2 separate regions of the Homo sapiens genome follow, and region 1 is reported to be linked to region 2. The links are microRNA targets in miRTarBase. Many come from high-throughput screens and were not tested one by one. Region 2 holds a microRNA gene; the other region holds the end of a gene's coding sequence.
What was found. The annotated mature microRNA hsa-miR-3934-5p reads UCAGGUGUGGAAACUGAGGCAG and lies in region 2 at 1,504-1,525, shown strand. An mRNA with a match to its seed (bases 2 to 7 or 8) in the 3' UTR can be bound and repressed. Matches are read on the target gene's strand: a 7mer-m8 pairs with bases 2 to 8, a 7mer-A1 pairs with bases 2 to 7 and ends in A, and an 8mer does both.

Region 1: miRTarBase lists DCTN3 as a target of hsa-miR-3934-5p. The part of its 3' UTR that is shown has no 7-base or 8-base seed match.

Annotation. Positions count from the first base shown.
Region 1 is chr9:34,610,721-34,614,151 of GRCh38, reverse strand. It overlaps DCTN3 (dynactin subunit 3), which reads left to right. Exons shown (of 7, transcript NM_007234.5): 6 at 51-110; 7 at 281-606. The coding sequence ends at 370. RPP25L (ribonuclease P/MRP subunit p25 like) reads left to right here and starts at 2,055. Exons shown (of 2, transcript NM_148178.3): 1 at 2,055-2,088; 2 at 2,820-3,431. The coding sequence starts at 2,856. The coding sequence ends at 3,347. RefSeq lists enhancers at 1,254-1,303, 1,431-1,480, 2,584-3,137 and a silencer at 1,881-2,120.
Region 2 is chr6:33,696,649-33,699,648 of GRCh38, forward strand. It overlaps MIR3934 (microRNA 3934), which reads left to right and starts at 1,480; the gene lies at 1,480-1,586. It overlaps UQCC2 (ubiquinol-cytochrome c reductase complex assembly factor 2), which reads right to left. Exons shown (of 4, transcript NM_032340.4): 4 at 116-1,102. The coding sequence ends at 1,005. RefSeq lists an enhancer at 908-1,883.

The DNA of each region.
Region 1 (3,431 bases), not on the chromosome of region 2:
AGATGTGGGCTTTGCCCAGTTCCTTTCTGTGCTACACTTTGGCCCTACAGGACCAGTGTGTGGAAATCACTGAGGAGTCCAAGGCTCTCCTGGAGGAATACAACAAGACTGTATCCTTTCTGCTCAACTAGGACCCTAATGGGTGCTGTCCCTAAGCCCTGTCCTTTTGTTCCACCTCTAGCTCTCTCTCATCCTATCCTACCCACCTATGTTTGCCTGTTCCCCACTTTCCATGAACTTCCTCACTCAGATTCCTATTCTCACCTTGACCTACAACCAGACAATGCTTCTCTCCAAGCAATTCGTGCAGTGGGATGAGCTACTTTGCCAGCTAGAGGCCGCCACGCAAGTGAAGCCAGCAGAGGAGTGATAGCTGCTCCCCATCCCAAAGTGGGCCTGGGCAGTCAGGCTCCAGGGCCCTATGCCAACCTGCCTTTGTTACAAGGCAGAGGAAGCTTTGTATTTATTGGCTTCAAGGCCCACCTCTCTGTACTCTGGGCTCTAAAGTTGGAGGTCAGGTTACCTGAGGTTTGCAATTTGCAACACCCACCCTCCCCCCAATCAGTGTTCTTATTTCAGTGACAATAAACCATAGAGATGACTGGAGGAGTGTGCTGGCTTCTTGGTCTAGGATGGAGGTGGTAGGGGGCAGAGGTGTCAGCCTGCCTAATCGTTTGACTGGGAACTAAACTCATCCTGGTCTGGCTTTCTGGCAGGTGTAGAGCTCTCAAAATGAAGGCTCTCATTTGATTATGTGAATAGGATATTCCTTTATGTATCCATTTATCCCACATTTACCAATAAGAGACCTCCAAATGTCAGATGATGGGAGTAGATAGGGCTAATCCCTGCCCTGCACGGGCTAGCAGGATAGACAGTAAAGGAAAAGGGCAGTCCTATCAGGTGGACACAGAAGAAAAAAGGGACTGAAGGGACCTGGTAAGTGATATCCAGGGACTTTCAGAGCCAAGGGAGCAGCATGTGCAAAGGCCTTTAAATTTCTCTCTTGGGAGCCTACCTGCTGCCACGAGCCGAGAAGGGCAGCCTAAGAGGTTTGGATGCAGGAAGTTTTGGTCCTGGGGAGGGGAAGTTGGGAAGTAGGGGCGCTGGGGCAAGCATGTTGAGAAACAGATTGGCACCGTAGTCCACCAAATGTTTGCTGCCCCCTTGTGGTCTCAGGGAGTGCTCTGGCTCCAGACCCTTTTTCCAACGGCCCATTGGCCGCCCCGCCTTTGCGACCTCTCCGGCACCTCAAATTCAGCGTGTCCAAACCGATCTGAAACCTGGGAGTCACCCTAGATCGGAATTTCCTACTTCTCCGTCCAAACAGTGGCCAACTCGTCACTGAACCTACTAGTATCTCCCAACTTAATCTTTTTTCCATTCCCACCGCGATTTCTCTGGTTCATTAATGTAACAAATCATTTAACAAATATTGAGCGCCGGTCATACGCCAGGCACCATACTAGGCTCCGTGGGCACCCCCGCCCCCTCAGCCCCCAGACTCCGCGGCAGGTGTCGTCAGGGGCTGTGGCCCGATTTCCCCACCACTCCCTCCTCGGCTCCCTGCACAAGATCTGGTTCGACTGGCCCCTGGAAAACCCGGAAAACCCCCGTGGTCCGCCAGCGCCCACAGGATGAGGTCGAAGCTCAGAAGTCGGTAACTAAGGCTCTCGCCCATGCAACAGCAGCCACTACAAACTGAAGCCTTTGTTCGCACCCACGGTGAAACCCACAGCTCCCCGTTTGCTCAACAGCTAACGCCAGCCCTCCCATCTTCTAAGGGCCAGATCCCCCTCCTTCAGACGCAGGACTTCCCCGACGGCCGCTCCTTTCTACCGCAGGGAACTGTCCTGCCTCCCTCCGGGGCGTAACAGCGGAGGCTGCGCTCGTGTTCCCATCCCCGCTGGGACTGGTCCGGGGCGCTCTGGCCAGCGGGTTGTTTCCGCGGCGGAGATGCCTCGGGGCCCGTCCCTCACGCCCCGCCCCTCACGCCCCGCCCCCTCGGGGCGTGCGCGGCCCCGCGGCCTTAGTGCGCTCCGGGCCCGCGCGCCATCTTGGCTCCGGATCGTGCGTGAGGCGGCTTCGGTGAGAGCCGGAACCGGGCGGGCAGAGGGGCGCTCGTAGGGTTGGGGGACGCCTGTGGCTTGGCTGCAGCGGCCGGCAAGACCCTGGAAGAGACCGTGGCTATGGAAACGGCCAAGGCTGTCTTGGAATGTCCTGAGCAGCCCTCCGAGTCGAGCCTCTGCCCCCGAGTTTCTGAGTGACCTGGGTTGATATAGATTGACCTTGGTAATCTCTGGGAGAGGGGATCCGTTCTGTTTGGGGGCAGCACTGGATAAGGGTTCTTGGCTGTTTCCCGGGGGGCCTGGGGCGAAGGGCCTTGTCCCTGTCCTTGTAGAGCCCCAAGTGAGGAGCGCTCTCTATTGGTATTAGTCTGGGGTGAGGGTTCCAGGCCCTGTTCCAAGGAGCCCAGGATAAGGGGGGCTAAGCCCCAGTCCTGGAGAGTTTAGGATGAGGGGGCCTGGCACTTTCCCAAAGAGCTCAGTGTTTGGGGAATGTGATCCTGCCTCTTGGACTCCAGGATTGGAGGTGGGGGTGTTATGGCCCTTGTAGAGGAACGGGGTGTATGGGGTACAGCCCTTTCCCAGACTGCGGCAGGCATGGACCTTGTCACGAGATGCTAAGGACAAGGGGACATGATCCTGTTTCTGGGAAGTCTGGAACGGGGAGCAGGGCCATATCCTGGATGGAGATAGGGGATGGTGGACAGTGACTTGGGGCACATTGCTTAGCACTTACCTGATGCTTCCCTGCAGTGGGCAGCGAGAGTCACAGACAAGACAGCAAGCAGGATGGAGCACTACCGGAAAGCTGGCTCTGTAGAGCTCCCAGCGCCTTCCCCAATGCCCCAGCTACCTCCTGATACCCTTGAGATGCGGGTCCGAGATGGCAGCAAAATTCGCAACCTGCTGGGGTTGGCTCTGGGTCGGTTGGAGGGCGGCAGTGCTCGGCATGTAGTGTTCTCAGGTTCTGGCAGGGCTGCAGGAAAGGCTGTCAGCTGCGCTGAGATTGTCAAGCGGCGGGTCCCAGGCCTGCACCAGCTCACCAAGCTACGTTTCCTTCAGACTGAGGACAGCTGGGTCCCAGCCTCACCTGACACAGGGCTAGACCCCCTCACAGTGCGCCGCCATGTGCCTGCAGTGTGGGTGCTGCTCAGCCGGGACCCCCTGGACCCCAATGAGTGTGGTTACCAACCCCCAGGAGCACCCCCTGGCCTGGGTTCCATGCCCAGCTCCAGCTGTGGCCCTCGTTCCCGAAGAAGGGCTCGAGACACCCGATCGTGAAGACCTGCTGAGCCAGCCTGTTCTCCGGGCCTGAATGTCTGGGGTGCTTGTGCCTTTTCTGAGAAGCGTTGTGACTGCTCAACA
Region 2 (3,000 bases):
CCCCTCCCTGCTGGCCTGGCCTCTCAGGCTCTCAGGAGATACGCTGAGTGACATCCTGTCTCAAGGGTCCTCCCCTGAGATTTGCCTACCCAGAACTGCATTTCGGCATAACTGGTTTCTACGGCAGTCCTGTCGATTTTATTTTATGCATTTCAGAACATCCTGAGGAGTCTAGACACAGACGAGGTTAAGAACCCACTTCCACTTTGTACCCACCAGGGCCGCTGTGGGCCCAGCCCTGTCCCTCACGGTTCCAGAGAGAAGGATGCTCAATATCAGTAAGAGCCAAGGTTCCATGGAATAATGAGGTGACCCTGTGTGTGTCCTCAGCCAGCAGGGCCTCTGACTTGTGGCCACCTACAGAACCTGCCCACAGTGCTGAAGCCAACTGCAGCTGAGGCCCCGCTTGGCCAAGGCCTGTCTATAGCTTCCCTGTCCCTTAAGCCAACTGGGCAATGTGGGTTTTTGCAAGGTCAGGGATAGAGGCCTAAGGTCCATCCTTCTCTGAGTCAGTGGGGATGAGGGCCAAGCAGGCTTTTTGCCTCTCTCGGCCTCACACCTCCCTACTGCTTTCTGTTTGCAACAGGATGCCCTTTTCAGTATTTACTGCTATTTTTGGCTTCCTCCCAGGAGCTCCTACAACAAAAGGGAGCCTGAGTATCTTGCCAGGAGACACCAGACCCGTGCCAGAGGGGCGGGGGCTCCCGTGGCAATGCAGGAAGCACCTTGTGCCGAGGCCCCATTACCCTCATCAGGCCCAGAGGGAAACCTGCATTTCCTCTCCCCAGGAGATTTCCCTACCCTGAGCAGCAGTCACAGCAGATAGCTCAATCACCATCCCTTCTCAGGCTGAAACTTTCTTTAGAGCAGCAAGGGCTTCCTTTCTGGGAAAGCTAGAGGAGATTCCCAAACCGTAAGGTCAAGGGGAAACTGGGGCAGTTTTATTGACGATGGCAATGTACAAGACTCCACACCTAGGTATGTGCACGAGGTAAGGCCTGAGCTCAGGCCTTATGATCCTCCTCAGGACCCTTGGGGGCAAACTTCTCCTGCAGTTTCTTCCACATGCCTTTATCTATTTCCTTAAGCTCTTCCAAGGTGTCTGCAAAAGGGGAAGACAAAAAGAGAGAGGGACTGAAGTCTAAAACTTGATGACATAGATTGGACCCACTGGGCTTTCCCGACACAAGCATGGCTTGCTTTTCACACAGTGTGTTCCTGAAAAAGGTGGAGACCCAGCTCCTGAAGAGCAGATCAAACAGGTAACAGAAGTGACCGCTTGCGGGGACTGAGCACTGTGTGCCAGACTCTGTGCCCAGCACGCTGTCAGTGGTCTCCTGCCCTCTCCTCACCCTCGGCATCAAAGCGGGATGTGCTGCTCGTTGCCCTGCTCCGTATGAGGGCAAAGAAATGGCCCTGCGCTGTCCGCTGTGCAACCCACAGACCCAGATGCTTCATCGCAAAATTTGGCCTGCTCCACACAGCCCTTCCTGTCCCCAGTTTTCAGGTGTGGAAACTGAGGCAGGAGGCAGTGAAGTAACTTGCTCAGGTTGCACAGCTGGGAAGTGGAGCAGGGATTTGAATCCTGGTGTGTGGACTCAGCACATGCTGTGGAGTTGAGCAGGCACTGGGAGGGGGATGGCCTTGGGCCTGAATCCGAGCCCATCATCTCCCACTCTGGGTCCCCTCAAGCAAATTACTTAACCCTCTACGCTTCGGGTTCCTCATCTGTAAAATGAAGATAAAAACACACATCTGCAGACAACTTGGGGAGAGGTGAAAAAGTAAGAAAAAAAAAACCACACGTACCTCAAAAGTTGTAAGGATTAAAGAAAAGCATGGAGGTAACTCGCTTGGCACACAGCCCGCACTCAATGAAAAGGCAGCCATCATCCACCACAATGCAGGCGGGAGGGGCTCTTGTTTAAGAACATACACGTCCCTACACCCAGGAACCAAAGCAGGGTTTCTTGGCCTTGGCACTACCAACACTTTGGGCCAGATAATTTTTCGTCGTGGGCTGGCCTGTGCATCACTGAAGGCTGTTTCAAAGCATCCTGGCCTCTACCCACTAATGCCAGTAGCACCGCTGCCCGCACCACCAGTTGTGACAACTAAAAATGTCTCCAGACATTGCCACATGTCCCCTGGGGGGCAAAACCATCCCCCCAGTACGGAACCATTTGTCTAAAGTCTCTAGGGCTAATGTTCCATGAAATCTAATTTTACGTGCATGTTAAATTTTAGATATTCTTATAATATTGTTTTGCTTTACCAGCCTAAATTTTCACGTTAACAAAACTACTGGAGAAAAAAAGAGTATCTTTTCTGACCAAAAAAGGTAACAGAAAAAAGCCCCTGCTCTGGAGCTTTTCCAGAAGTCCATGTTTCCAGTGTCCAGGTGGACACTGAGGCCTCCCTTAGGCGCTTTCCATGACCCCAATCCCAGGGTGGACACACACATAACCCAGAACACAGCACATTTCAGACTTGCCAGGCCCTCAAAGCCTCTCACTACAAGGTGCTGCAGGTCTTTTCTTGTCCTGTCAGAGGAAACATTTGGTAAGCTTACGCCACACAATTTGCAACAAAAATATGAGGCTTGCTGTGAAAACAAATTCTCAGCAAATTTCCTGAACTAAACTCGCTGCCAGAACAAGCTGCAGCGCGGACCAATGGCGGGACTATCTCCCAGCCTTCGTTGCTGCCTGTTTTCCACTTGCAGAGGCTGCCCTGAGGTGAACAAAACAGAGGGCAGAGGCAGGGCCTCTGGAACTTACTTCCGCCCTCACTTCAAGTTCAAACTTTGCTCAAACTGTCCAGGGCCCTCACAATAATGTGCATCAATGCTGCTAATTACACGGACCCAGGGATATAGGAGTAAATTTACACATTAAAAAAAATTGCCAATAAAGTGATTCTGCCTGGCCAAAATATCTTCACCACAGTTTCCCAGAGAGTACTGGAATAAAAATAGGGTTAGAGTTGACATGTAATAGC